Regions from separate parts of the Homo sapiens genome. Here all the other regions are linked to region 1. The links come from fine-mapping of genetic effects on gene expression. A gene starts in region 1. Each other region holds a variant in brackets. All regions are shown on one strand. Distances are between the middles of the regions.

Evidence for each region. PIP is the estimated chance that this variant, and not a neighbour inherited with it, causes the effect.
Region 2: its variant is the best candidate, but not a certain one, in a credible set for the expression of DRC8 in prefrontal cortex (GTEx, PIP 0.52).
Region 3: its variant is the best candidate, but not a certain one, in a credible set for the expression of DRC8 in whole blood (TOPMed, PIP 0.88).

Annotation. Positions count from the first base shown.
Region 1 is chr1:244,967,245-244,976,090 of GRCh38, forward strand. It overlaps DRC8 (dynein regulatory complex subunit 8), which reads left to right and starts at 2,438. Exons shown (of 8, transcript NM_032328.4): 1 at 2,438-2,799; 2 at 3,085-3,199. The coding sequence starts at 3,175. LOC124900416 reads right to left here and starts at 3,326. Exons shown (of 4, transcript XM_054328428.1): 1 at 3,082-3,326; 2 at 3,011-3,080; 3 at 1-3,008. The coding sequence starts at 3,293. The coding sequence ends at 2,742. EFCAB2-AS1 (EFCAB2 antisense RNA 1) reads right to left here and starts at 3,625. Exons shown (of 2, transcript NR_111907.1): 1 at 3,568-3,625; 2 at 1-2,735. RefSeq lists enhancers at 788-1,292, 3,731-4,100 and silencers at 2,501-2,640, 2,911-3,090, 3,101-3,460, 3,471-3,560.
Region 2 is chr1:245,134,594-245,145,743 of GRCh38, forward strand. No RefSeq gene overlaps it. Among named protein-coding and RNA genes, the nearest start is that of KIF26B, 15 kb to the right of the region's middle. The variant G/C (reference allele first, on the strand shown) is at 4,963.
Region 3 is chr1:245,118,069-245,129,218 of GRCh38, forward strand. LOC124904572 (a long non-coding RNA gene) reads left to right here and starts at 11,144. Exons shown (of 2, transcript XR_007066991.1): 1 at 11,144-11,150. It also overlaps a transcript of DRC8 not described here. The variant C/G (reference allele first, on the strand shown) is at 6,104.

The DNA of each region.
Region 1 (8,846 bases):
CAAATATCAGCATAATGCAGATAATGTACTCACTGGCATTGTGGGCCTTTATTATTTGGATAATCATTTTCACCTTGTGGAGACTTTTCCAGAATTATATACTTTTATGCCTAATCAGCAAATTAGGCAGTTGAAAAGTATGTATGAAGCAGCTAATATGTGCCCCAATTAGGCTAGGTAGTGTGGGTATATAAAAAGGGTTTATAAAGGGGGAGGCTCCTATTCAAACCTTAGTGGGGTCAGGAGATGCGGAAGTTAATTAACATATATTAAATATTTTTTTACTCACCCACACCTAGAGAAACAGTACTGTTTTAAATGTGCTGTAGGAGTTCAGAGAAATACTGATTAATGTGGTTTGGAATAAATTAAATAATAAAAAGCTTTGCTGAATACAGTTAGTTTAAAAAATATAAAAATATAGGGGGATTTGCAGAGAAATCTGTTCAACTCTTAAAATAATTTTTAATTTATATATGTTTATATAAGAATTCCATTTTATTAACATGAAATACTAGTACCTTTTTTTGGGGATGGAGTCTTGCTCTGTCATCTGGGCTGGAGTGCAGTGGCGGATCTCGGCTCACTGCAACCTCTGCCTCCTGGGTTCAAGCGATTCTTCTGTCTCAGCCTCCCGAGTAGCTGGGATTACAGGCGTGAGCCACCACATTCGGCTAATTTTTCTATTTTTAGTAGAGATGGGGTTTTACCATGTTGGCCAGGTGGGTCTTTAACTCATGACCTGAAGTGATCCACCCGCTTCAGCCTCCCAAAGTGCTGAGATTATGCGTGAGCCACCGCGCCTGGCCCAGTACTTTTACTGATGAAAAATGTAATGTAAAAGGAAGGTCTGTCTTACATACAATAAGTGCTGAATCTGGGTCTTTTTTAAAAAAAGTCATTGAGAAGACTTACTCCTTTCTTAAGTTTTAAGACATTTATTATTGCAAACAGAAAAATTGTACTAGATACCGGGGATATATAAACGAATAATGCCGTTTCTGTCTTCAAGATCTTACTGTTTGGTAGGTGGAAATAAAGTGAACGAACGAAGGCACTGCAAATCAATGTGGGAGGCTCTATAAGCATGGGGCCACAGAGGAAAAGGCTGAGAGGGAAAGCTTCAATGACTAGGTGACTTCAAAAAGGTCATCCTGGCCAGGCACAGTGGCTCACACCTGTAATCCCAGAACTTTGGGAGGGCCAGGCAGGCGGCAGATCGCTTGAGCTCAGGAGTTTGAGAGCAGCCTGGGCAACATGGGGAAACTCTGTCTCTACAAAAAATACAAAAACTAGCCAGACATGGTGGCGCGCGCCGCTCCTCCCAGCTACTTGGGAGGTTGCGGTGGGAGGGTCACTTGAGACCGGGAGGCGGAAGTTGCAGTGAGCAGAGATCACACCACTGCACTCCATCCTGGACGACAGAGCGAGACCCTGTCTCGAAAAACAAAAGACAAAAACAAAAACAAAGGTCATCCTGCAGGACAACCAGGAGGGCACAAATGTGTGTCTGTGGGAAGCTGAAATGTTGGCGGGGGAAAAAAGCAGGGAAAGGCATTCCAGAAAAAGGAAACTGTAAACAGCACACGAAAAAGCATAGTGAATGAATAGGAAGCCTGAGACCAAACTTAGGGTTTCCTACACTTATTTCAAAGCCCTTCATTATCTATATGGAAAGGGGGAGTCTTTAAACACAAATATTTAGATCATATTGACTGAGATTTAGATATAAATGAATGCTAATAATTACTTTTCGTTATTTTGGGGTGTTAAACATTTACTGTACAAGATTGTATTCGTTTTAAGTATCTTCTAACATGAGCCATTTTGTAATGATTCAGTTGTTTATATTCAATTTCAAGTAGAATGCTGATCACAGCGCCAAATGGGTATCTTCTACAGAAAAAGTTATTTTAATAAAGAAAAATATAGTCAGTTTTAGGATTTCCTGAGAGATTATAGAAACAATAAAAGCATTAAAACTGTTAAGTCATTAAATACGAGTACCTTGTATTTTGAAGGCTCTTAAAATTTAGTTTATAAATTGCTTTTACATAACATATGCACTGAAATACCACTTAAGATTAGTTTTGAAAATAGGTGTTCGTTTCAACCACATCATTAGGTATTTTATTCAAAGCTCTTTATAAAAAGAGCTTTACTATGTTCCAGTATAGTAAACTTATCCAGAAAATAAGACAAAAATTTAACTTCATGCTATAGCTGCAAAGTTTTCGGAAAGCGGGATTTAAAACTTCCATTGTAACTTTAACTAGCGGTCATGTCAAATTTCACAACTAAGAACATTTTAACGCATGTAATACTGAGCACAACATGGGCACGTTTTTGTTGCTATGAGAACCTTCTATTTTGTATTAGACATTGCAGCCTTGACGACGCAATGTTTGTGCTATTTTGCGCATGTTTTCCTGCAGCTATTCCTCTCCTCTAGCAATAGTCGAATGGCTCTGGTTTCCTCTTGCGCCCGGCCCAGTTTTTCCGTTTTAGCTTCGGTTGTCATAGGCTGTGCTGTCGCTTTCTCTGGGAAAGGACGGTGAAGACTGGACGGGAGAAACCGGGAGGGCAGGCGCGGCCGTTCTGCAGCAGCCGGGCCGCTTCCCGGCGGGAGGCGGGCTGCGAATGGGAAGCGGGAGGAGGAGGCCGGGCCGCGGGCTGGTTCTATCACCCCCTTGGGAGCCCAGCTCTTCACCTAGCTCTCCGGCGCTTTTCAAAATCTGCAGTTAACAACAAAAATCGAGCAACGCCACGTCGCACAAACAGGACAGGAGGGGGCGAGGGGTGTGTGCGCGCGCGTGCTGTCCCCAAATGGATGAGAAATAAGGGAAAGGAGGGGTTGGGGACCGTGTGATGAAGCAACATGCTAGGCCCGGGACAAGTCCGGCTCCGGCCTCGGGTCTGGAGGGACAAGGCCGGGGGCCGGGTGGCAGACGGGGCCTCTGGTCTTCCCCCAGCGCGAGGGTCGTGGCGCGAAACGGGGACAGGGCGCGCGCTCGGAGCCTCCTCCCCGCCCCGCCCCGCCCAAGGGTCTTCCTCCCCCGGGATTCAGAGCGGCCCCTCCTCCAGGCCAGGCTCGCCGCGGGGCGCTGAGCAGGCCGGGACACCGCGGCCGAGGTTATCGTTAGGCATCTCCCAGGCGACCGGCTCCGCAGCAAGATGGCGGACGAGAAGGACAGGGAAGGTAAGGTAGGGGAGCCGGGGAGCCGCTGCCCTCGCCGCCCGCCGCGACCCCGGGCTGCACGGGGAAGCGCCGGGTGGGGTGGGCCCTCGTCCATCTGGAGTTCCCACCCGCAGGGAAAGGGCGGCCTGAGGAGGGGGCCACCCGGCAGCAGCAGTCGCCCTGCCCCCGTCCCCGTAGCCCGCCCGGCCCGCCGCTCCGCCCCGCCCCGCCCCGCCTCTCTCCCCCGCCCCGCCCCGCCTCTCTCCCCTCTTCCCTCCCTCTTCTCTCTCCCCTCCTCCCGCCTTCTTCTTTCTCCTCCCGCCCTCTTCACCCTCTTCCCCTCCTCCCGCCCCGTCCTCCTTCCCCCTCCCTCGGAGGCCGGGCCTTGCATCCTGCGCGGGCTGCGCCGGAGGCGCCGGCAGGGGGTGCTGATAATGGCGTCGTTGTTCACGGTCGCGGGGAAGCCGCCGCCGCCTCCACACTCTCGCCTGGGGTCTCGGTGCCGCAGGCGCCACGCCCGTAGCTGTCCAGGCTGTGGGCCCCGGGGGGTGGCCTGGGTGAGGAGGAGTTCTGGCCGCCTGAATCTGACGGGATCCTCTGTTTGCGCCGAAACCCCGCGCTGGCGCAGCCTGATGGCGTTCGCGGCCACCATTTTGCCTCCTTAATGAGGACGCAGGAGGACGGTCTGGAGGTCACAGCCGCTGCCTCCGAGCTTCCCGGTCCTCCGAAATGCCTGCCCCGCCGCCGGCTAGCGCCGCGCAATTGGCCTAGTGTCTTGTCTTAAAAAAAAAAAAAGACACACACCCAAACAGCAATTTTAATAACGACGAAAAACCAAAACCTGGTTGAGATCTTGGAACCGCTGTGCGCCGGCCGGGCCTCTCCCAGGGGACCACCCAGCCCCGCGCGGTGGCCGCCTGCAGAGGCGGGACTGCGCTTCGAGGCTTAAGGTCGCCAGTTCGGAGGCATCGATGTGTTGTCTGTGCGGAGAAGCCAAAAAGTGATTACGTTTATTTGCAAGACCGTTCATGTTGTTTTCAGTTCATGGTATGATTAAAACCCGATCCTTTGTTACCATGCCCTTAGGTACTAAAAAATAATTGTGTTTGATAGTTGGCAGTCACCCAAAAATATCCAAAAAGCCATGAAACAGTAAAGGTAAACAAGTAGGAAGTGAAAATAATATTCGTCCTTTGTTTTCTTTCTGGAGTGCTCAAAACACCCTCTCAAACCATTTTTCTCAGCATAGAACCAAGTGTGGTCAGGTTAACAGCTAATATTTACAAGGGAAGAAACGAACCCTGAGATATTTAGTCACTTGTTCCGGTGATCACAGAAAATCGGCGAAGAAACACATGAAACTGCCAACGATCTCTCTATTGATAACAAGGATACCGTGATTTTTATGTAATATTAATCTGAGAAGCCAGGATTATTTTGTAGGTATTAGCTTTACGAAGATGCCCTTACATACAAAGAAAAGGATAATTTTAAAACTTTCCCAGAAAAATGGATGGCTTATTTTTGTTCTTTACCAAAAAAAAAAAAAAAAAAGCCATTAGGAGATAAACTAGCAAGGTAATTATGGATATTTATTTTCTTAAAAAAGACTTGGTTAGGTCAGCATGAGAAAAAACGCACTGGAGTATGGTACAAATACAGTATTTCTCGTTTTTTAAAAACTGAGAGCTTTCCTGATTTTTCAGCTTTTGAACAATTTTTTTCCATTTAAAGTAAATTCAGAGAAACAATTTTGTCGATAACTCATAGAAGTAATGACTGTTAAAAGCTGGATGCCATTCATTCAGAATACATATATTCAATGCCATTATGTAGATAAGGCATTCTACTTAGAACTTTGAAAGATACGAAAATGAAAGACATTGTCTTTGCTTCCAAGGAAGGTGAGATGAGTAAGGGAGATGAGAAATTTACAAATGGGAGGAAATAGTTAACTGGGCTGAGTAGTCTGGGTGCCAACCACTGTGCTAGGTGTGTATCCTTGTAGTCCGTGGACAGCAGCCTGGACATCACTGGCTGCCACCGACCTAATAATGAATCAGTCTTCATTTTAACATGTTTGTAGGTGATTTGTATGTACATTAACTTTCGAGAAGGCCGGGCGCGGTGGCTCACGCCTGCAATCCCAGCACTTTGGGAGGCTGAGGCGGGCGGATCACGAGGTCAAGAGATCGAGACCATCCTGGCCAACATGGTGAACCCCGTCTCTACTAAAAATACAAAAATTAGCTGGGCGTGGTGGCACGCCCTGTAGTCCCAGCTACTCAGGAGGCTGAGACAGGAGAATTGCTTGAACCGGGGAGGCGGAGGCTGCAGTGAGCCAAGATCACACCACTGCACTCCAGCCTGGCGACAGAGTAAGACTCCGTCTCAAAAAAAAAAAAAAACAAAAACAAAAAACAAAGTTCGAGAAGCACTCATGTGCTGTATCTCATTTATTGTTAACAGTTTTATGGATTAACTAATTGCAGTTTGTGAAGGGTATTATGAAATAAAGGCATTTTGTTAGAGGATAAACTAAGTAGAGACTCATTTTGGTGGTAAGATCTTTTTATGGAAATAGTCTATTACTATATTTGATTGTCAGCTACTGTATTTTGAATTTTCAGAAATTACGTCTAACCAATTAATCAGAATTGATTAAGTTTTGAGGATTCACTCAACTAAACTCATAAAAGACTGATGTGCAAACCTGAATGATTTATTAATTTAAATAAGGGTATATACATTGACTTGAAGGCTGATTTTGCCAATATACTAATATAATAATTTTGGCAATATACTAATATAATAATATACTGTTTTATGGGTACTAAGCTTCGGGTAGTGTGAATTTGTATTTCAGAAGTCATTTGATGACCGTGGAATCACACAAAAGAAAGGATAATTTTGAAGGATGTGTTCAGTACCCTCTAAGTTCCAAAAGATCTGGGACCATTTCTGATCTGTTAATACTGAGTGTTGTGCAGAGTGCTTGGAACGTGGTAGGTAATCAATAAATATTTGTTGAATTCAGAACATTTGAATTAATCAAAGACAGCTTATGAGATTTTAACCAAAGCATTCCTAGCTATTTTCCCCAAACTTATTCTATACCTAAAAGTACACAAAACTCGTTTTAGGTCTCTTTTCCCCTCTGCTTTACCGGTAAGATACATTCTTCTATTCCATCTGGCTCAACAAAACGTTTTATTTCACAGTGCCACGGTATTCACTAGCATGTCTTTAAAAAACAACTACAAAAAACCTCATTGTAGAAATACACATATGTTTTAAATAGTTCATCCTTAATATTGAGATTTCTAAAAGTTCTAAAGGGGGAATAAGTTTCAGGGTACCTATCCTATCCACTCTTCTTCAATATTTAGAGATTAACTTTGATAGAAGTATTGAGAATATTGATAAGAAAAATTACCTAAATTAGAAGGGGCTATTGTGCTCATAAAATTTTTTTCTAAGATTATGTACGTTGAAGTTGTTATACTTATTTGTAGCATTTTTTGCTTTCATACAGTATAATTTATTTTTTCATAGATTAAAAATTATACAGAATTATATTAGCTAAAAGTTTAACCTTTAGAACCAAATTATTTTTAAAACCACTTTTTTAACTGAAAGAAGAATGTTTGAAACGGGATGAGAAAAAATATTTTTGAAGGTTTATTATTTTTCCAAAGTTTCCTCAGCCAGAACATTTTTTGTTTTGTTCTTTCTTTTCCTTCTGTTTTGTCTGTTTAAATGGAGAGTCAATGCAATTGTTGATTCTTTGGCTCCTTAAATCTTATTGTTTCTGTCTCTTAGAGAATTTTATATAGGACTGGAAGGATCTTCTGTTTGTAATTAGACTCACGTCTAGGAAACAAACTGCTTAGTTATAAAATTTGAACTTTTGGCAGCCAGTGAGCTTTGGAAAGTAAGAACTTTTTAGTAAGCTGCAGATATTAAAAGCTCACTCTAGGATTTACTATTTTTGTTTCTATTAAAATATTCTTTGTTACTTTGCGTGCTTTGATAACATTGCTTGATAAAGTGCCTCTAATTCAATTATCACCTCCTAAATGGAAGAGGTTTTACAAGGTTTGTTGTTTTGTTTCTGATTTCCTTCATTGTGCCACTCTTTTGAAAACCCAACATTTGGAAATATAAAGTAAAAAACAGAAATTTCAGGTGCCTATTACTTTATAAAAAGGGTTCCCTTAAATAACGTCTTTGTTTTTTTTTTCTTCTTTTATTTTGAGACAGGGTCTTGCTCTGCTGCCCAGGCTGGAATGTGGTGGTGCAACCTCTGTTGCCTAAGCTGGAATGTAGTGGTGCCATCACGGCTCACTACAGCCTCGACCTCCTGGGCTCAAGCGATTCCCCCGACCTCAGCCTCCCAAGTAGCTGGGACTACAGGCGCAAGCCACCATGCCCGACTAATTTTTTTAATTTGTAGAGACAGGGTTTCACTGTGTTGGCTACGCTGGTCTCAAACTCTTTATTTTTTTTATTTTTATTTTTTTTTTGAGATGGAGTCTCGCTCTGTCGCCCAGGCTGGAGTGCAGTGGCACGATCTTGGCTCACTGCAAGCTCTGCCTCCCAGGTTCACACCATTCTCCTGCCTCAGCCTCCCGAGTAGCTGGGACTACAGGTGCCTGCCACCACGCCCGGCTAATTTTTTGTATTTTTAGTAGTGATGGGGTTTCACCGTATTAGCCAGGATGGTCTCGATCTCCTGACCTTGTGATCCGCCCACCTCGGCCTCCCAAAGTGCTGGGATTACAGGCGTGAGCCACCACGCCTGGCTCGAACTCTTGAGCTCAAGTGATCTGCCTGCCTTGGCCTCCCAAAGTGCTGAGATTACAGGCATGAGCCACCCTGCCTGGCCTCATAGTAACTGTCGATAGTATAGAGTGTAGCCTGTGGGACAGTACAAAGGTTGAGCTTTGAAGTAAGACTTGAATTTGAATTCCGTCTTCCCCAAGCTCTAATTATCTGATCTTAGCCGAGATGCTAAACATAAGTAGCTTCAAGTTCCTCAGATGTAAAGTGGGGATAATTATACCCCCAATATTTCATAATGTTGTAATGGGGACAATGTTTTCTTATTCATTTTTACATCCCCAGCACCTGCCACAGTGCCTGGCATCAAAGGAATGCTGAGGCCGGCTCACGCCTGTAATCCTAGCACTTTGAGAGGCCCAGGCAGGTGGATCACTTGAGGTCAGGAGTTCAAAACCAGCCTGGCCAACATGGTGAAACCCTGTCTCTACTAAAAATACAAAAAATTAGCTGAGTGTGGTGGCGCGTGCCTGTAATCCCAACTACTCAGGAGGCTGAGGCAGGAGAATCGCTTGAACCCAGGAGGTGGAGGTTGCAGTGAGCTGAGATCACACTACTGCACTCCAGCCTGAGTAACAGGGTGAGACTCTGTCTCAAAATAAATAAATAAATAAATAAAAAATACAATAAAGGAATGCTGAATAAATGGGAAAGAAAGTGTTTGGTACGTATCTAGTGAATTAGTAAGTATTAGTATCTGCTTAACATAAAACATAAGAGTTGGCCAGGCGTGGTGGCTCCTGCTTGTAATTCCAGCACTTTGGGAGGCCGAGGTGGGGAGATCACCTGAGGTCAGGAGTTCGAGACCAGCCTGACCAACATGGTG
Region 2 (11,150 bases), 170 kb after region 1:
CCTTTGTTGCCGGCATCCGCTCTGCTCTAAATGCCCTTCCACACAGCCTCCTGCCCAGGGCTCTCACTTCCTGCAGGTCCCAGCCCAGATCTCCTGTTAGCAATGAACCTTCCCCAAATACCCTAGGAAATAAGGATGCCCCTTGCCCCACCCCACACTCTCTGTCCTACCTGCCCTGCCCTTATCAATTCCTATTTATTTCCGCTAGAATGTAAGTTCCAGGAGGGCAGGTCTCTTTCCGTTTGGTTGGCTGCTGTATTCCTAACACCCAGAGCAGGGCCTTGCTTTTAGGCACTCAATATAGTTGTTGAATGAGTATATTGAGACTTCCATTCCTTCAGGCAATAAATCGATCAGAAAGACAGAGGCCGCTCTAGGTATTTCAAGCAAGAAGAGATTTTTCTCTTCTTTCTTGTGAATTTTTGTGGGTACATCGTATGTGTGTGTATTTGTGGGGTCCATGAGATGTTTGGTTCGGGCACGCCATGTGAAAGGAGCACATCATGGAGAATGGGGTGTCCATCCCCTCAGGCATTTGTCCTTTGAGTTACAAACAACCCAATTACACTCTTTAAGTTATTTTAAAATGTACAGTTATTATTGACTACAGTCTCCCTGTTGTGCTATCAAATAGTAGGCCTTTTTCATTCTTTTTTTTATTTTTTATTTTTTTTTTACCCATTACCATCCCCACCCCCCTACTCCCCTTCCCAGCCTCTGGTCACCATCCTCCTACTCTCTATGTCCATGAGTCCTATTATTTTAATTGTGAGAATATGTGATGTTTGTTTTTCTGTGCCTGGCTTATTTCACTAAATACAATGATCTCCAGTTCCATTCATGTTGTTGCAAATGACTGGATCCCATTCTTTTTTATGGCTGAATAGTACTCCATTGTGCATATCTACCACATTTTCTTTATCCACTCATCTGTTCATGAACACTTAGGTTACTTCCAAATCTTGGCTCTTGTAAATAGTGCTGTAACAAGCAGCAGTGCAGACATCTCTTCAATATACTGAGTTCCTTTCTTTTGGGTATCTACCCAGCCATGAGATTGCTGGATCATACGGTAGCTCAATTGTTAGTTTTTTGAGGAAGCTCCAAACTGTTCTCTACAGTGGTTTACTAATTTACATTCCCACCCACAAGGGTCCCCTTTTCTCTGCATCCTCACCAGCATTTCTTATTGCCTGTCTTTTGGATGTAAGCCATTTTAACTGGGCTGGCATGATATCTCATCGTAGTTTTTTTGTTTTTGTTTTTGTTTTTTTTTTTGGAGACGGAGTCTTGCTCTGTTGCCCAGGCTGGAGTGCAGTGGTGCAATCTTGGCTCATTGCAACCTCCACCTCTGGGTTCAAGTGATTCTCCTGTCTCAGCTTCCTGAGTGGCTGGGATTACAGGTGCATACTGCCACACCCAGCTAATTTTTTGTATTTTAGTAGAGACGGGGTTTCACCGTGTTACCTAGGCTGGTCTCGAACTCCTGAGCTCAGGCAATCCACCTGCCTCGGCCTCCCAAAGTGCTGGGATTACAGACGTGAGCCACCACGCCCGGCCCTCATTGCAGTTTTGATTTGCTTTATCTAATGATCATGGTGTTGAGCACCTTTTCATGTGCCTGTTTGCCATTTCTATGTCTTCTTTTGAGAAATAGCTATTCAAATCTTTTGCTCATTTTTTGATCAGATTATTAGACTTTTTCCTATAGAGTTGTTTGAGCTCCTTATATATTCTGGTTACTAATCCCGTGTCAGATGGGTGGTTTGTAAATATTTTCTCCCATTCTGTGGGTTGTCTCATCTCTTTGTTGATTGCATCCTTTGCTATGCAGAAGCTTTTTTACTTGATGTGTTCCCATTTGTCCATTTTTGTTTTGGTTGCCTGTGCTTGCAAAGTATTGCTTAAGAAATTTTTGCCCAGACCAATGTCCTGGAGATTTTCCCCAATGTTTTCTTGCAGTAGTTTCACAGTTTTGTCAGAGGCGTTTGAATCAGAGCAACTCCATCTTGAATAGGATCTTGGTAACACGAGGCTGAGACCTACTGGGCTGCATTCCCAGACAGTTAAGGCATTCTAAGTCACAGGATGAGATAGGAGGTCAGCACAAGATACAGGTCATAAAGACCTTGCTGATAAAACAGGTTGCAGTAAAGGAGCTGGCCAAATCCTACCAAAACCAAGATGGCGACGAGAGTGACCTCTGGTCATCCTCACTGCTACACTCCCACCAACACCGTAACAGCTTACAAATGCCACGGCAATGTTGGGAAGTTACCCTATATGGTCTAAAAAGGGGAGGCATGAATAATCCACCCCTTGTTTAGCATATCATCAAGAAATAACCATAAAAATGGGCGACCCGCAGCCCCAAGGGCTCTGTGTGTGGAGTAGCCTTTCTTTTATTTCTTCACTTTCTTCATAAACTTGCCTCCACTTTACTCTCTGGACTCTCCCTGAATTCTTTCTTGCACGAAATCCAAGAACCCTCTCTTGGGGTCTGGATCAAGACTCCTTTCTTGTAACAGTTTGAGGTCTTAGATTTAAGTCTCTAATCCATTTTGATTTGAATTTTGCGTATGCTGAGAGATAGGGGTCTAATTTCATTCTTCTGTGTATGGATATCCAGTTTTCCCAGCACCATCTATTGAGACTGTCTTTTCCCTAGTGTATGTTCTTGGCACCTTTGTCAAAAATGAGTTCACTTTAGGTGTGTGGATTTGCTTCTGGGTTCTCTATTCTGTTCCGGGGGTCTATGTGTCCTTTTTAATGCCAGTAACATGCTGTTTTGGTTACTTTAGCTCTGTAGTATAATTTGAAGTCACATAATGTAACTTCTCTAGTGTTCTTCTTTGTTCAAGCAAGAAGAGATTTAGGGATCTAGGAATTAGAGCTTCAAAATCACTGGAAGGCTAGAGGTGCGAAGGTTCAGGAAAGCCATTCATTGCCCTCAGGCCCACCACCAGTTACAGGAAAAACAACAAGTTTCAGAACCTGCAGAAACCATTGCCAGGGTCACATTTGCCTGCAGTACCAAGGTGGGATTCACTGGGGAAATGCTCAAATGCCAAGGCAAACTCATGCTTGCCGTGTTTGCCACCTGTTGAAGGGGGAGCAGCAAGCCGGCTTGCCTCTCTTCTATTTTCCAAATTTCACTCGAGTGCCTCTCAGCGGCCCAATCTAAGTTGGAATGCTCCTAGTTGGTATACTGGGAAATATAGTCCCCAGGCTTTCTACTCCCCAGTACAGAGCTGGCACACCAGAGTGGAGAACCAGCCGACGACCCAGCAGAGGCAGAAGATGCCACCCTGTGTTCTCTTCTTGCTTCCCCCCAAGTTATCCTTTTTGTGGGAAGAGACTCTCCAAGAAAGAGATCAATGATGCAGATGAATTTCAAGGATTGAGGTCTGTCAGATTTCAGAGTCCACATGTGGAGGGAATGTCTACCTTAAATTACCAAAAGGTAATGATTATAGCTTAAGTGTATTGAGCTGTACTATGTGTCCAGTACTATTCTAAGCCTTTCATATAAATTACCGAATTTAGTCCTCATGAGGCAAGCATTATTATTCATCCTCATTTTATTTTATTTTATTTCATTTCTTTTTTTCTGAGACAGAGTCTCACTCTGTCACCCACGCTGGCATGCAGTGGTGCAATCTCAGCTCACTGCAACCTCTGCCTCCTGGGTTCAAGCGATTCTCGTGCCTCAGCCTCCCAAGTAGCTGAGACTACAGGTGCACGCCACCACGCCCAGTTAATTTTTGTGTTTTTAGTAGAGATCAGGTTTCGTCGTGTTGGCCAGACTGGTCTGGAACTCCTGACCTCAGGTGATCCACCTGCCTCAGCCTCCTAAAGTGCTGGGATTACAGGAGTGAGCCACTGTGCCCAGTCTTCATCCTCATTTTATAGATGAGGAAAGAGAAAGTGGAGGCTAAGTATCTTGCCCAAGGTTGCATAGCTAGAAAGCTGTGGGGCCACATTTTCAACCCTGGCTTTCTGACTTTGGAGCCTGAGCTTCTAAACATTAGATTACATTCCCCCTCCCCCATAAAGGGGTGGAAACACCAGTTCTGGGCATCTCAGCTACAAGAGCATACATGAAGGAAAGGCTTTAAACGTCTATGTAAATTTGTCAATAACATAAAAATAAAGATGACCTGAATGTAGCACTTGGGAGGTCAAAACAGAAGCCATGAGTAGGTCTCAAGAAGTATGTTGCTCTGGGTCAGGGAATCCTGCAACAGCAAAGTCGCTTGTTCACTGTGGCACGGAGAGGGGTAAGTAGGGAGAAGTGTGGCTTGCAACTTGGAATTCGAACCCTTTCCCTGCCACACTAACTTCTTTGGTGGTGTTGGCATATCATTTAGGCTTTTTGTATTTTGGGGCTTCTCACAGTTCTAAGTGAAATAACGATGTTAACTTTATCCAGAGAAGAATATGGGGGAAGTCCTAATCACTTAGTATAAATTATTCTGAAAACCAAACTGCTAAAGCATAATGCTCTATGCTGGCAGAGAAGTGAATATTGCACTAGAGAATCTTCCAGGTGTCATTTAAAATTCAACAGTGATGGGCCTCCAGTAACTAAGGAAGATGACTTCACAGTCTGCTAGATTTTACGGTCATTGTTTTCACCTTGAAAGCTTGCCTACACTTTCTTAATTTTAATTTAAATCCATCCCTCCTTTGAAACCTCCTAAACTAGGTGTGTTTCTCTCTTTGTTCTCACCCCTAGACATGGACTTCCTGAAAACAGTCTTGTTTTACCAGTTATTTTTAGATTTTATACATATTCTAGTTGCTTCAGTCTTCACTTTGAAGCCATCCCTTCTAAGTTGTTTAATTACTGTGATCATACACTACATTTATCTTTCGGGCAATAAGATGTTCAGAACAGAATGCAATATTTTAGATTAAGTTTCAGGCTGGGTGCGGTGGCTCACGCCTGTAATCTCAGCA[G/C]TTTGGGAAGCCGAGGTGGATGGATCATGTGAGGTCAGGAGTTTGAGACCAGCCTGGCCAAGATGGCAAAACCTCATCTCTACTAAAAATACAAAAATTAGCCAGGCATGGTGGTGGGTGCCTGCAGCGCCAGCTACTTGGGAGGCTGAGGCAGAAGAATTGCTTGAATCTGGGCGGCAGAGGTTACAGTGAGCTGAGATTGCGCCACTGCACTCCAGCCTGGGCAACACAGGGAGACTCTGTCTCAAAAAAAAAAAAAAAAGAAAAAGTTTCAACTGAGCTATTTCACATGAAAGCAACGCACTAGATTCATGATACATACTGAGTTCCTCCATATACCTGTAACCAGAGCCACACCCAGTGCTGTGCTGAGTGTTAGGGACACAAAGATTAAGGACCTGGCTACCAGCCTCAAGGAGCTTAGAGTCGAATGGTTATAATGCACAGATTTTTGAACCCTTAAATGGGTGTCTCAAATCTTGAGTCAGAGCTCTGTAATTAGCAATCATTTTGCACCTTAGCTCTGCACAGTGGGTTTAGAACTCTTCAGGAGTAATCAATTTAATAGAGAAAAGAGGGCAAATAAAAACACAAATGGATAGCACGTGCATAGCTATATTGTTAGTGATTAGGGAAGATCAGATTGCAGTCCCAGAGGGACTGTGAAGAGTGTCATGGATCAGTGGGACTCATCGAGAGACGCTTCCTGCAGGAAGTAGGCCTCCCTTAATGTAGCAAAAGTTTACATTATTTCTGAACATTAATTATGTAATTAATTACATAATTAATTTCATTAATGTAAATTATTCATTTACATAACTAATGTAAATTAAAGTTTACATTAACTACATTTAATTAATGTAAATTAAAGTTTACATTAATTCCATTATCTCTTGCCTGTCTTTAGGGAGAACTGCTTTATTTATTTATTAAAATTTTATTTTATTTCAAATTGAGGGGGTACATGGGCATGCTTGTTACGTGGGTACATTGTATACTGGGCTTCTAGTGTACACATTACCCAGAGAGTGAACATCATACCTGATGGGTACATTTTCAACCCTTGCTCCCTGCAAGTCCCTGCCCACCCACTTTGGAGGCCACGTGTCCACTGTTTCCATCTTCATGTCCATGTGGACTCACTGTTTTGCCTCCACTTACAAGTGAGAACACGCAGTTTTGATTTTCTGTCTCTGAGTTAGTTCCTTAGGATAATGGCCTCCAGCTCCATCCATGTCACTGCAAAGGACATGATCTCATGCTTTTGTATGGCTGTTTTTTTTGTTTTTTTTTTGAAGAGATAGTCTCACTATGTCGATGAGGATGAAGTGCAGCGGCATGATCATAGCTCACTGCAGCCTCGAATTCCTGGGCTCAAGAGATCATCCCACCTTAGCCTCCTGAGTAGCTGGGATGATAGATGTACACCACAACTGGCTAATGAAAAAAAAAAAAAATTGGCTGGGCGCAGTGGCTCACGCCTGTAATCCCAGCACTTTGGGAGGCCGAGGCGGGTGGATCATGAGGTCAGGAGATCAAGACCATCCTGGCTAACACGGTGAAACCCCGTCTCTACTAAAAATACAAAAATTAGCTGGGCATGGTGGCGGGCGCCTGTAGTCCTGGCTACTTGGGAGGCTGAGGCAAGAGAATCGCTTGAACCCGGGAGGCGGAGGTTGCAGTGAGCTGAGATTGGTCCACTGCAATCCAGCCTGGGTGACAGAGCAAGACTGTCTCAAAAAAAAAAAAAAAATAGCAATGTGGTTTTAGGATGCTGCCCAGGCTGGTCTCAAATTCCTGGCCGCAAGCAATCCTCCTGCGTCAGCCTCCCGAAGTGTTGGGATTACAGGTGTGATCCACTGCACCTAGCCAAGAACTGCTTTCCAAATGTCTACCATGCAGAGTCAGGGTCATTGTCTCCGTGAGTAGGAAGTTTGATGTTTTGGCTTGCCTTCATGCCTTTGATTTTCTCATACTTTTGAGACTCCATATTTTCACACTTTATTTTCCCTTCTGCAGGTGTGTTGGCAACACCTCTCGATTTAGCTCATCCCTGCATTTTATCTGTTGCTTTTTATTCCCCCTTAAAGAACATTAAGATGAGAGCTAAGGCCAGAGCCAGTGCTGGTGTCAGGCCTCCCTTCCTGGGGCCTGTGGGTCACATGTCACAATTTGTGGCCTAGAGCATTTGGTTGTGTTTTCAATCCATGCACCTGTGTTCTTCTGGGAGCTGAGATTTGCTAAGATTCGCTACAGTGAAAGTTTTATCTAAGTAAACATCTCTCACCTCTTTTGGGGACTTTTCATCTGTGGAATGAGTGAAACGGTCCAAAGGTGATCAAGTACGCAAGACAGCCTCCTCTCTCTAGGACCTGGATCTTCCTCGCTCCTCATTCTCATGAACCATTAGTGGGTTTTTTTTCTTCTTTCTCTTAGGACATGGTCACAGTTGTGTGCAGCAGTGAAGCTGGACATAAGAGAGCACAGCCAAACTGGGGCTGTGGGGTGTTTCCTCTCACCTGTTCTTCACCTGTTCTTGCCCACTCAGAGCATTGTGGCCCCTGGCTTTTATTACTGCTTCTTTAGTTGCCTGAGATGCAGTCTTCATTGGGAGGAGCTTGAAAAGAACTCACTAGCAGGACCTAGTGCACAGCAGGCATTTAATAATGATTTGTCTTCGGCTCTCTCTGCAACCTTGTGAGTGGCATTGCACCCTGCAGCCTGCTGTTACACACAGAGTCAGATTAGCTATGGCTAGTCACGGCTAGTCACGGCTGGTCATGGCTAGCTAGTCACGGCTGGTCATGGCTAGTCATGGCTAGTCACAGCTGGTCATGGCTAGTCACAGCTAGTTACAGCTAGTCAGGGCTAGTCACAGCTGGTCATGGCTAGTCACAGCTAGTTACGGCTAGTCACGGCTCATCACGGCTCCTTGTGGCTAGTCACGGCTAGTCACGGCTAGTCATGGCTAGTCATGGCTTGTCACGGCTTGTCATGGCTCATCACGGCTTGTCCCGGCTCGTCCCATGACGGGATTCTCTGGGCATCATTCTTCTCCTGGGACTTGGTGTCCTCATCCTTCCTGTGGGAGCGAGGAGGCTGCCTCCCTCACGGGTGGCTGTGAGGAATTATAAACCAATAAAGTGACTGCTTAGCATACGGCTGAATGTGAAGGGCAATAGAAATGCTTAATTTCATTTATTTGCTAGTAGTTGGGTGGCCACGTGAATGTTGCTGTGGAGACCATAACTCCTGAATTCCCCAACACTTACCTATGCTGTTGTTTTTAAATGAAGCTTTACACTTAAATCTTGTGATTTTTTTTAAAATTAGAAAAGTAGCAGGAAGGGTCACAGCTTGCTCTCCATCTCAGCCTTTTCATAGGAAACTGTGAGCTGCTACAGTCCCCACCTAGGAGCATCTACTGACCAGTTACTCTCACCTGATCCCTCTCTTCACCCAAGGTCATACGTCTTCCATCTATCCATCCACCCGTCCACCCATCCGTCCATCTGTCCACCCACCTGTCTGTCCACCCACCCGTCTGTCTGCCCACCCATCTGTCCATCTGTCCACCTGTCTGTCCACCTGTCCACCCGTCCATCTGTCCACCCACCCGTCTGTCCACCCACCCGTCCGTCCATCTGTCCACCCACCCATCTGCCCACCTGTCTGTCTGCCTGTCTCTCCGTCCACCTGTCCACCCGTCCGTCCATCTGTCCATCCACTCTGTCCACCTGTCTGTCCATCCACCCATCTACCCGTCTGTCCATTTGTCCACCCACTTTGTCCACCTGTCTGTCCATCCACACGTCCGTCCATCTGTCCACCCACCCGTCTGTCCATCCACCTGTCCGTCCATCTGTCCACTCCCCCATCTGCCCACCTGTCTGTCCGTCCACCCGTCCACCCATCCGTCCATCTGTCCACCCACTCTGTCCACCTGTCTGTTCACTCATCCACCTGTCCATCCATCTGTCCACCCACCCATCTGTCCACCCACCCATCTATCCACCTGTCTGTTCCTCCATCCAGATACACTGCATTTCCAACTCATGAGTTGAATGGGCCCCATGTGAGTAGATCAGAACTGTTGATTTTCTAGTGAACCTTTAGAATTGAGAGGATGGAGACGTGATGGCAGATTCTGTGCAGCTGATGAGGTGAAGGGGGAAGTGGCAAAGGGAACATTTGCAGCAGTGATGGTGGAGGCTTTAGCAATTCCGTGCTGGTGCCCAGCCTCAGGCAGCACACAGCTGTGAGATGACAGTCAAGCCAGGGGGCAACAACAGCACTGCTTAGAAAAATGGGTCTTGATTCTAAGCCCTCATTGGAGGAATCCTGGAATCCCACACCCCAGCAAGTCCCTCTCTTCCCTGAGCAGGTCCTCAGGTTGCTTCCGTGTCTCCACCACGGTCTTTGAAGCCCTTCTCTGGGCTGTGTGTGCTTCTCTGCCCACCACCCTTACGGCTGACTCTGGTGGCCATCGCTCCCACAGCTGAAGCTGCTGCACCTGCTGCGGCTCGTATGGCTTAGGTGGAGACAGCCCGTGCCTTACTCCTGGCCACGGCAACTTTGTTCTGGCAGTTCTTTACAGAGTTCTTAGTATCACAACTTTTTTTTTTTTTTTTTAATTAAGCACACATTCTCAGTTCATTTTCTTTAATGGCTCTTCTATTCCCAACAGCAATCAGCCAGTGTCTTTTGATGATCTTCCCAGTGCTGGGGTCCCCTCTCCCAAGACGACATGAAGCTAGACCCCATGGGGACTCTAGCTGGACATGCTGGGATTCCTGAAGTGGGCACACAGGCTAACTCTCTCTCTGGGACTTTTGCTTCAGAGGGAAAAGACAACTGGATTATTGTGGCCATATCTTTTCTCTTTTTTAATGTCAGTTCTGGGATACATGTGCAGAGCATGCGGGTTTGTTACATAGGTATACATGTGCCATGGTGGTTTGCTGCACCCATCAACCTGTCATCTGGGTTTTAAGCCCCACATGCATTCGGTATTTGACCTAATGCTATCCCTCCTCGACAGGCCCCGGTGTGTGATGTTCCCCTCCCTGGGTCCATGTGTTCTCATTGTTCAACTCCCACTTACGAGTGAGGACATGCAGTGTTTGGTTTTCTGTTCCTGTGTTAGTTTGCTGAGAATTACGGCTTCCAGCTTCATCCACGTCCCTGCAAAGGACATGAGCTCATTCTTTTTTATGGCTTCATAGTATTCCATGGTGTATATGTGTATTGTGGCCATATCTTTTCTAAATCAAATGCATCATCTTCCTCCCACTTTTCTTGTTGTTGGAAATGGTATTTCATCTCTCTTGCCCAGCTCATATGCCTGAAAATCATCCTTGCCATCTCTGCACATCAGTTTAGTCTCCAAGCCTAGCCGATTGAGTGCCAACAGCTCTGAAATTGATCCCCAATTTCCATCCCCTCCTTTACCTCTCCCATCACTTTCTAAAAACAGCACTATTGACATATTTTACATATGATAAAACCCACCCTATTCAAGTGCACAGTTCAATATTTTTTGGTAAATTTACTGAGTGGTGCAGCCATCACCATAAATCAGTTTCAGAACATTTTCATCATCCCAATGAAGATCCCATTTACAATTAATCCCTGTTCCTACCCCCAGTTTCAGGCAACCACTAAGCTACTTTCTATCTACAGATTTGCCTTCTGAGCATTTCATATAGATGAAATCACACACTACGTGATCTGTCATGTCTGGTTTCTTTCAGTTAGCATGATGCTTTTGAGATTCATTTGTGTTGTGATGTCTATCAGTATATCAGTATTTCATCCCTTTTTATTGCCCAGTAATACTCCATTTTTGGATACACCGCATTTTGTCCATCCATCAGCTGAGGCACATTTCACCTCTTTTTGGCTATTTATAAATAATGCCACTATGAACTTTTGTGTGCAAGTCTTTGTGTGAATGTGAACATATGCTTTTATTTCTCTTGGGATAGATACTAAGGAATGAAGTTGATGACGGTACAGTGATATTATGTTTAACTTTTTGAGAAACTGCCAAACTGTTTTCCAACACAGCACACCATATTACATTCCCACCAGCAACGCATGAGGGTTCCCGTTTCTCCACATCCTCAACAATGTTGTCATTGCCTGTCTTTTTGATGATAGTCGTTCTAGTGGGTATGAAGTGGTGT
Region 3 (11,150 bases), 150 kb after region 1:
TACTCAAGTTTGAATAATTACAAAACTACGTGATGGGCCTGCCCTGTCTGACTTCCTGCACACTTAGACCGAGAACTGAAAGACCCTAGTGTCAAAAATATTTAAGATCTGCCATGAGAAATAGATGAGGGAGAATTAGAGCAAACCCTGGCCCTAGGGTGCATTTTGAGATTGAAATCGCAGCCTAGTCTCTTCCATTACACCATCAGTAAATCTTGAAGGACAGAAGAGTAGCCAAGAACAACACAGGGACAGGTGCGCTGGGCTTGGCTGGGGAGGGAGCCAGGTGAGGTTGTGGCTTCCTGAAGGCCCTCGAAGTTTGCCCCTGCAGCTTTCTTCGGAGAACTGGGAGAACACCATGTGTCACCTTGTGGAGCATTTTAAAAACGAGTGAGAAACCTTTATCGGGAAGATACTACGTGCTGTAAAACAATGACAGTAAGCCGGGCGCAGTGGCTCACGCCTGTAATCCCAGCACTTTGGGAGGCTGAGGCAGGCAGACTGCCTAAGGTCGGGAGTACGAGATCAGCCTGACCAACAGGGAGAAACCCCGTCTCTACTAAAAATACAAAATTAGCCTGGCGTGGTGGTGCATGCCTGTAATCCCAGCTACTCAGGAGGCTGAGGCAGGAGAATCGCTTGAGCCCCAGGAGGCGGAGGTTGTGGTAAGCCAAGATCGCACCACTGCACTCCAGCCTGGGCAACAAGAGCAAAACGCCATCTCAAAAAAAGAAAAGAAAAGAAAAGAAAAGAAAAGAAAAGAAAAGAAAAAAATAATGATAACAACAGTTGATGAAATGCTTTGATTTCCAGAAGACATTATATAAGGAGAGAACTTTACTTGCATGGGACAGCTGATGAGCTCCTCAGCTAGGGAGAGGGGAGGGATTGACTCATTCTTGATGATGGGGCAGGGCCAAGGCTGTAGGGAATTGGGCATTGTCTGGTTGCTGGTGGTATGAGATGCTGGCGGAGCCCAACCCATGCCTCTGGCTGTTATGCGAGGGTGGGAAAATTCCAGTTTGCTAGAACCATTAATAACACAAGTGGAAATCATGGGTAAGTTTACAGTTTATTCAAGCAAGTACTTCTAATTAAACAGAAAAAAAGAGTGTGAACTCTTGACCAAGGCATATTCATGATTTTCAGTAAAATAATTTCTCACTTCTAGTGGTCAAAATAATAATGAAGTGCGAATATGAAGTGAAATGCAACATTAAGGGTTGGTTAACCCCAAATTCTTTCATCAAAGAGCAATATACAAGAAATTGGAGAGTTTTTTTTTTTTTCATACTAAAAGTAACCATTAAGGGTAAAGAACTGAGCCTGGCACAGTGGCTCATGCCTGTAATCTCAGCATTTTGGGAGGCCGAGGCAGGAGGCCAGGAGTTGGAGACCAGTCTCGGCAACAAAGCGAGGCCCTGTCTCTACAAAAAAAATTTAAAAGTAACTGGGCATGGTGATGCATGCCTGTAGTCCCAGCTACATGGGAGGCTAAGGCAGGAGGCTGAAGTGAGCCATGATCACGCCACTGTGCTCCAGCCTGGGCAACAGAGCAAGACCCTGTCTAAAAAAAAAAAGGAGGCTGGGCACGGTGGCTCACGCCTGTAATCCCAACACTTTGGGAGGCCGAGGCATGCGGATCACAAGGTCAGGAGATCAAGACCATCCTGGCTAACATGGTGAAGCCCCGTCTCTACTAAAAATAGAACGAATTAGCCACACGTGGTGGCAGGTGCCTGTAGTCCCAGCTACTCGGGAGGCTGAGGCAGGAGAATGGCGTGAACCCAGGAGGTGGAGCTTGCAGTGAGCCTAGATCATGCAACTGCACTCCAGCCTGGGCAACAGAGCGAGACCCCGTCTCAAAAAAAAATAAAAAATAAGTAAATAAGTAAATAAATAAAAGAGCAAGGAACTGAACCCAGTGGATAATGCTGGGGCATCAGATAGAGGCTGTTGGCCATTTAGTTAAAATAAGATGGATGACCATAATCTGAAAGATGTAAAAAAAGAAACTGACCTAATTTATTTTTTTGAATGAATAAAATATATGTGGTACAAAATTCAAAAGGTATGAAGGCTCATAGAGTAAAAACTAATTTTTTTTTATAAATGTGTCCCAAAACCACTCGGATCCCTCTCCCCTGAGTGCACCGATTCCAGGGAATCCTTGTGTGAACAGGCAGGTAGCATCCTTATGCGCCCTTCACGCATCTCTACACATCACACTTTTCTCACTAAGCAACAGGTCCCATACGCTCAGTTCCTAATTGTATAAATACCCACCTCATCGATCTCAATGTCTGTGTAGTATTCTATTGCGTGAATGTGCCATATTTTATTTAACCAGTTCCCTTCTCAAGAATATGGAAGCAGTTTTCCATCTTTCAGAAACTCTGATTTATTTGTTTATTATTTGTATTTTTTTCCTGACAAAAATGCTGTTCAGAACAGAAATTCGAGTTTAAATTGCAGTGGCTGTTCTGGTTCATGTAGAACTAGACTTCAGCCTTTTCCTCATTTTCTTTTGCCTGGTAGACTTTTGCTTATCCTTTTATTTTCAGCATTTTTCAAACATTTTATTTTGGGTGTGTCTCTTGTATACCCAAGCAGTGATTGCAACATTTTCAGCAATTGCTATAATTTCCATTTTAGATACAGAGACACCTGTCACTTCGCACCTTAAATGAAGAGCTTCTGAGCTAATTTCTTCAATGGGAAGGCACCTCGGGGGTGATACATGAATAACGTGGAATAATGCAATTTGGGCAGATTACCAGTTAAAAGCAATGTTAGGTTTGGCCCACTTTGCCTTGCAGGCCGCTAAAGCCTCAAACAATATGACACCTGGCCTTTTACAAAGACCGGACAGTGGAGGTGTTGACAGGAATGGTGTTAAGCCAGGTTCATCTGGGTTTGTCAAGCATAGACTTCTACTTTTAAAATATTTAGGGCAAATACAGTTCAAAATTAATTTGGTCAACTACATTTTTCTTAAGTTTCTTTAGTTTTGAAACCTTTGTATATTTTTATTAATTATGAAACTCATACAAATGTTATGTAGGCAGAATTTTCAGGAAGTTTTATGCCCCTTTTTATAAACCTGTAACAAAGAAATAAGTGATATAATAGGGAAATACGGAGGTGTATTTGCAGTCTTTGTATTTTACAAAATTATCATTTGACCATAGATGTGATCGTTGCTGTTCCAAGTAACAGAAAGCTCAACCCATAAAAGGAATTAACTGGCTTATATGTAACGGAAGAGTCCAAAAGCAGACATAGCTTCAGATGCAGCTTGATCCAGGGCTCAGATGCCATGATCAGAATCCAATTCTTGCATCTGTTTCTTTGGGTTGGCTTCATTTTCAGGCAGCCCCCTTCCTCATATCCTCAAGATGGCAGAGACAGCCCATGGTCTTTCCCTTGCAGAGACAGATCACCAGGAAACAATACCTCTATCCCTAGCCATGAAACAGTCTTGAACTTTATTCTGACTTGATCAGCCAAGTCCCTGTTGGAACCATCACTGCCTAGCTTAGGCCTGAGACAGTGCTGCACCTCTACTACCAAAGGCCGGGCTGGCCTTCCCTAAAGTGTATGTGCTGCGTGGGGGAGAGGTACGGATCTGAACCAAAACGAGGGCTGTCCAGCGTCAGCAAATATCTCCCGCAGTCCCAGTGCCTCCAGCAGGAGGCAAAGCATCAACCCCTCCGTCTGGCTCCTCTACTGAAAATTCCCTCAGCAGCCTCACAGGCCTTAGGCTTGTCTTAGCTACTTCTTCATCTACTTTTTTGCTTTCTTAATTATTTTTCTTTTCTTTTTTCTTATTTTATTTTATTTTATTTTAGATGGAGTTTCGCTCCGTCGCCCAGGCTGAAGTGCAGTGGCGTGATCTTGGCTCGTTGCAACCTCCACCTCCCGGGTTCAAGAGATTCTCCTGCCTCAGCCTCCTGAGCAGCTGGGATGACAGGCACACACCACCACGCCTGGCTAATTTCTGTATTTTTAGTAGAGACGGGGTTTCACCATGGTCTGGTGACCTCCTGGTCTCGAACTCCTGACCTCAAGTGATCCTCCCGCCTCAGCCTCCCAAAGTTCTGGGATTACAGGCATGAGCCACCGCACCCGGCTGCTTCCTTAACTCTTGATCTCCTCTCTGTATCTTGCTTTGTCTAGCTGTTCTCTTCTCTCCATATTCATCCAAACATTTGCTTAGAAGTACCCAGAAGCATGGCGTTGAATGTGGTACACCTTGAACGAAGGGTGAAGAAACGAGGCAGAGTGACTTAGTAGCAAGTGACAGCACACAGTTTAAATTTTAATATTAGCCCATTTACAAACAACAGCTTATATAATAGTCATTCACATACCTCAACACTCACCATCCCCTCCCCACTTTTTTTCTGGAGACAGGGTTTCACTGTCACCCCAGCTGGAATGCAGGTGGCATGATCACAGCTCACTGTAGCATCGACCTCCTGGACTCAAGGGGTCCTCGCGCCTCAGCCTCCTGAGTAGCTGGGACCACAGGTGCATGCCACCACGCCCAGCTAATGTTTTTTTTTATTTTTTGTAGAGACAGGGTCTGGCTATGTTGCTTAGGCTGGTCTCAAACTCCTGGGTTCAAGCGATCCTGCCACCTCAGCCTCCCAAAGTGTTAGGATTACAGATGTGAGCCACTGTGCCCAGCCAACATTCACCCCATTCAAGTGTGCAATTCAATGGATTCTAGTATCTTCACAGTGCTGTGCAACTATCACTCCTATCTACTTACAAAGCATTTCCATCATCTTAAAAAGAATCCCCATGTCCAATAGCAGTTCCCCTTCCCCCACCGTCATCCTCGGGCAACCGCTAATCTTCCTGTGTGTCTGTGGATTTGCCTCTTCAGGGCATTTCACATAAACACAATCATACAATATGTGGCCTTCTGTGTCTGGCTTCTTTCATTTAGTGTAAGGCTTTTGAGGTTCATCCATGTTGTAATGTATATCCTTAGTTCATTCTTTTTTGTTAAGCTCACAAATAAAAAGCCTCACTTTTTATTTGAGGCAAGGAGACTGGCTACAGGGATTACAGTTCCAGCAGTCAAAACGCAACTCCAAGTGGCACTATTTGGACCGTAGGTTTTGCTTCATTTTGGCTGGAAAAGGGTATTCAGGATGTACTTCTCCCAGCCGGACAAGAAAAAGGGCAAAGAAAACTGGAAGAGACGTCTCGTCTACACAAACTGCTCTTTGGACACAGCATCAACCTGACCACACCCGTGCTGGCCAGTCTGCAGGTTGCTGACCCGCCGTTAAGGGACACAGGCCATACTACACTTGCTAGAAAAACTGAGGCAGGAAAAAGAGGTGCAAGGCACTGGGGGAAGAGCAGGTACCTATAGCTTTAAAGCTCAGTGTTGAAGGGGTAATCCTTGCAGGAGGCACAGCTCACCAAGACACAGACCCTCCCGTTCCTGTTGTAGCTGACTACAGTGGTCACATCAGGCTGCTCAGTTGAAAGTCGAAGTCCTCCAAGTTTTCAGCAGTGCGTTCCAGCATCACCACCGAAATGATGATAGGAATTACCACCAAATTCCTATGCATGGGAAACCAGATCAGAACCTGGGCTGCGTTTTTATTTGTTTATTTTTTTTACTGTGCTTGGCTGTGATTGCTTTGGTGCTGGGATCCCCCAGACCTGTCACGAGAGCTGAGGGGACTACAGGCAGTCACCACCTTGCCTTTGGATTGGCAGCCCTGGATTAACTTCTCCTGAGGTGGGTGCAGGTGGCACTCACTGTGGTTAACCACTGTTTTTAAGCCAGGTTTCTTTTTTTCTGTCTGTCATATATATATATATATATTTAGAGACAGGGTCTCACTCTATCACTCAGGCCTGGAGTGTAGTGGCATGATCATAACTCACTGCAGCCTCGAGTTCCTGGGCTCAAGTGATCCTCCCGCCTTGGCCTCCCAAAGTGCTGGGATTACAGGCTGAGACACCACACCTGGTCTTAAGCCAGGTTTCTTTACCATCTCTTGGAGATGGCTGCAGTTGGAGATTCCAAAAGCTTTCAGAGCCCTTCATCCACCAGCTCCTCCATGTGGCCACC[C/G]ATGTGACATGAAGTTGGTGTCACTAGGTACCACGTTGTCTGTCCCATCCAACAGGAAAAATAGCCTGTTGGCCAGTGAATAAGGTAGGAATCCAGGTGGTCCCCTGAGGGTCTTCTGACAGGCTCCTTTATCAGGCTCTTCTCATGGTATGAGCACCGCAGCTTGCTGACAGTGGCAACGTTCTCAAGCTTCACAGACTCCGTCACTTGGCCTGGAGGGGAATTCTAGGTGTCCAGCCCCAGGACAGGCATTTTGGCACCATGATTGAGCACGATATGGTGAGCCATCCTCACAGGATTAAGAAGAATTCTGGACAGAAATATAGTTGTAAGTAAGCATCAGTCAGCCTGCACTTTGACCCACTTCCTTGTAACCAACAGTGACGTAGCACTAGGTAACATTTGCATCCCCGTTGTTCCTATAGATACAATTTCTGACCTTAGAATCACAAGGCTTTTGTTTAAAATAGATGGGATCTCTGACATTAGAATCATAAGATTTTTGTTTAAGACTTGCTTAAGATGTTTTTCAGATCCTGAATTCCAGCAAAACAGCCGACACCAACCAGTTTGAAGACCCCCACAGAGGAATGTGATCAGCATGAAAATACAGCTTCGTCTCCCTCTCCCATGACTCCACCCTGCACACTTCGACCAATCAACCATCTCCACACTCCAGTCTCCACTCCCAAACCCTTAAAAACCCCAGCCCCAAACTCCTCAGGGAGATGGATTTGACGTTTCCTCCCATTTCCTCCTTCGGTGGCCCTACGATGAAACCTCTTTCTCTGCTACAACCCTATGCCTCGGCGTATTCACTTTCTGGTCCCATCCAGCGATGGACCCATCGTGGTTACCGTGGCTGGCCAAGCCTGCTGTGCTTCACAGACCCCACTCAGGATCACACCACTTCGTTCCACTGTTTGGAGATGCCATGTTTGCTTATCCCTTCATCAGCTGATGAGCATTTGTGCTGTTTTCACTTTTTGGCTATTACGAAAATGTTGCTACGAGCATCCATGATATTCGCCCATTTAAAAAAGTGTTTTTCACCATTACTGCTGTGGGAAATTTCTCCCTGGCTCTGTCCTTTCTTTGTAGCCCAGCCTTCCCCCAGGTTTTGGCTCTCCCTCTCTGGCTCAATGTCAGCTCCTTGTCTCACCTCCTAGAGCAATTCCACTCTCCCACCTCCTGCTGCGGCATTTCCAAAGCCTCTGCTTAGCAAGGGACCACCCATTCTGCACCTCTCCCCTTAGGGCTGCAAGCACCTGCACAAACTTGGTGGTTATCCTATGCCTCAACTCAATCAAATTCTCTCAGTTTTCCATCAGCAATCTTTTTAAGCCAAAGGGAAGGCAAGGACTTGATCTTCACATCACATGAATCATGACACCTGCCTTAGAAGGCAGAAGCAACTGTAGTTGGAATAGCAATTGTTTTTCAACATATGGGATGATATCAAGGCTCTTTCCTCCCCATATGTCCTGCCCTGTTAGTGGCTGGGGCTGAGGGTTTTCCCAGGAAGCCAGATTGTCCTCACAAGTTCCTCAGGACCCTAGGGCTTCCACAGATAGTAGGACTGTTATCAGAAAGAAGTCTCGATCCAGACGCCGAGAGAGGGTTCTTGGATATCGCCCAAGAAAGAATTCAGGGGGAGTCCATAGAGTGAAGTGAAAGCAAGTTTGTTAAGAAAACAAAGGAGTAAAGAATGGCTACTCCATAGGCAGAGCAGCTCCGAGGGCTGCTGGTTGCCCATTTTTTTTTTTTTTTCTTTGAGATGGAGTCTGGCTCTGTCGCCCAGGCTGGAGTGCGGTGGCACAATCTCGGCTCACTGCAAGCTCCGCCTCCCGGGTTCACGCCATTCTCCTGCCTCAGCCTCCCGAGTAGCTGGGACTACAGGCGCCCGCCACCATGCCCGGCTAATTTTTTGTATTTTTAGTAGAGATGAGGTTTCACATGTTAGCCAGGATGGTCTCGATCTCCTGACCTCGTGATCCACCCGCCTCGGCCTCCCAAAGTGCTGGGATGACAGGCGTGACTCGTGATCCACCCGCCTCGGCCTCCCAAAGTGCTGGGATTACAGGCGTGAGTCACCACGCCGGGCCGGTTGCCCATTTTTATGATTATTTCTTGATTATATGCTAAACAAGGGCTGGATTATTCATGAGGGAAAGGGGTGGGCAATTCCTGGAACGGAGGGTTCCTCCCCCTTTTAGACCGTGTAGGATAACTTCTTGACATTGCCCTGGCATTTGTAAACTGTCATGGCGCAGGTGGGAGTGTCTCTTAGCATGCTAATGCATTATAATTAGCATATAATGAGCAGTGAGGTCGACCAGAGGCCACTCTCATCACCATTTTGGGTTTGGTGGGTTTTGGCCACTTCTCTACTGCAACCTGTTTTATCAGTAAGGTCTTTATGACCTGTATCTTGTGGTGACCTCCTGTCTCATCCTGTGACTTAGAATGCCTAACAGGCTGGGGACGCAGCCCAGCAGATCTCAGCCTCATTTTACTCAGCCCCTCATCACTCTGATTCAAATGCCTCTGACATGACCACGCAGATTTGAGAAACAGGCCCTCAGCCAACCAGACTCTGGCTCTACGACACACTTAATACTGTGAAAAGAAGATTACGGGTCATAGTCACAAATACCAGGGGTGCAAAACTTCAGATTAGAAGACACTTGTCAGACTCAGAGGCTCATCCAACTCCACGGAGATCATTATCACCACAAGTTCTTCAGACAGGTGTGGAGGTTTTCTAAGGGATATTTTTATTTTCTGGATTGCAATTTTGTTTAGGAAGAGATGAAAGTGAGGATCAACTACTTTGAGGATTGTACAACTTTGTAAATTGCACAAATATGACGGCATATTTATATCTGCCTGCATTTGTGAAAACAAACTTGTCAAGGAGCTTATTTCTGGAAAGGGTCAATGATTCTAGAAAAAAAAAAAAGATAAATATGAGACCCTTCAGTAAAAAGAAACTTACTCTAGGGAAGTTTTTTGTTTTTTTAAAGAAGCAGTATTCACTCGTGTTTTTAAAAAGGAACATGGATTTCAACAATAATATAATGAGTAAAGCATCTGTTTCATTTATGAAATTAGACCTATTAAAGAACAGAATCATTGAGGGTTAAGGTAGGATGAGAGTGACAGGGAAAGAAAATGGAAGGAAGGCTAGGCACGGTGGCTCACGCCTGTAAGCACAGCACTTTGGGAGGCCGAGGCGGGCAGATCACCTGAGGTCCAGAGTTCGAGACCAGCCTGGCCAACATGTTGAAACCCCATCTCTACTAAAAATACAATATTTAGCTGGGCATGGTGGCAGGTGCCAGTAATCCCAGCTACTCAGAAGGCTGAGGCAGGAGAATCGCTTGAACCCAGGAGGCAGAAGTTGCAGTGAGCCGAGATCACTCCACTGCACTCCAGCCTGGGCAACAAGAGCATACCTCCATCTAGGAAAAAAAAAAAAAAAGAAAAGAAAAAGAAAATGGAGAGGAAAACAAAGACCAAGGCGCACCCAGGCCTTTTGAAAGTGAGGCTGTGACCCCCGTGCAAGCAAGAGCCCTGTGTGTGGCTCCCACGGTGCCTGCCACATACTAGCTGCTCAATAAATGGCTGTGAAATAAATGCTGATCACAAAGGACAGAATGGGAAAGATTAAGAGAGAGAAAAGGAAGTGTGGAGGAGTACAAGCAGAAATAACAGCCTGGGCACAGTGGCTCATGCCTGTAATCCCAGCACTTTGGGAGGCTGAGGTGAAAAGATCATTGAGGCCAGGAGTTTGAGACCAGCCTGGGTAACAAAGCAAGACCTTGTCTCTACCAAAAAGTCAAAAAAAAAAAAAAAAATTAGCCAGGGTAGTGACACACCTGTAGCCTGTACTTGGGAGGATGAGGTGGGAGGATCACTTGAGCCCAGGAGTTCGAGGCTGCAGTGAGCTATGATCGCACCACTGCACTCCAGCTTTGGGCTAAAGAGCAAGACCACATCTTGAAAATAAAATAAAAAATAAAAAAGAGAAATAATAACCAATTCCACTAACGTAAGGCTTTTCCACTTCCAAAACCCTCGCCATGACTTGATTCTTATAGTCAATCCACAGGGTAAGAAAGAGCATTTGTACAGAGAAAGCAATAACATTTATGGTGGAGAAGTGAAGTCTGTCACCAGAGGCCACACTCCTGGGAGGTGGTAGGGCCAGTTCTAGACGAGGACTTCCATCTGCCAGCCCCATCCTGACTGCATGACTCCACGCTGCTTCTGTCTTCTGGAGGCACAGCCTCAAAATCGGGCCAGTGTTGAGGGGCCTGGGGACAGGGCTGGAGATGGGGCTCTGGGAGGCATCAGCACAGGGAAGATTTTCGGAACCACGAGACTGGTGAGACCACCAATGAGCGGCGGGGAGCGCAGATGGAGAAGAGGGGCCGGAGGACCGAGCCCTGGGTGCCCATCCTTCAGAGGGTACAGAGAAGGGACGGATCCGAGAAGGTGACTCGGTGGAAGGAACCAGAGGGAGGGAGTGGGGAGTCCTGGGAGCCGCGTGGAGAGTGCATCAGGGAGGGAAGGGGGCCACCCTGCCAGAATATAACAGTGCCTGATACCTAGTGAGCGCTCCAGAAATAAGAGCCCGTTCCTATTTTTATTAATGTCTTGTTGAGAGGAGGAGCGAGCAGTGAGTACGGTAAGAGCTAAATTGTCATGCACCACAGCACAGAGTAAAGAGCTGATGTCTCAAATGGATAAATCAAGAAACAGCAGAGCAAGCGCATTTAGAAAAGCAGAGGTGAATACCTCAAAAACCTCAAAATGGTCACCTCAGAGGGGAGGAGGACAGGTGTGGAGGGGAGGGGCAGCCAGGACTGGGGATTTTAAAAAATAAGCCTTTTGATATTATTTGCACATGTATTTCTTTGATAAAGATTTTTTTTTTAATTTTTAAATTTTTGTAGAGATGGGCCCTCACTCTGTCACCCAGGCTGGAGTGCAGTGGCATGATCATAGCTCATCGCAGCCTCGACCTCCTGGGCTCAAGTGA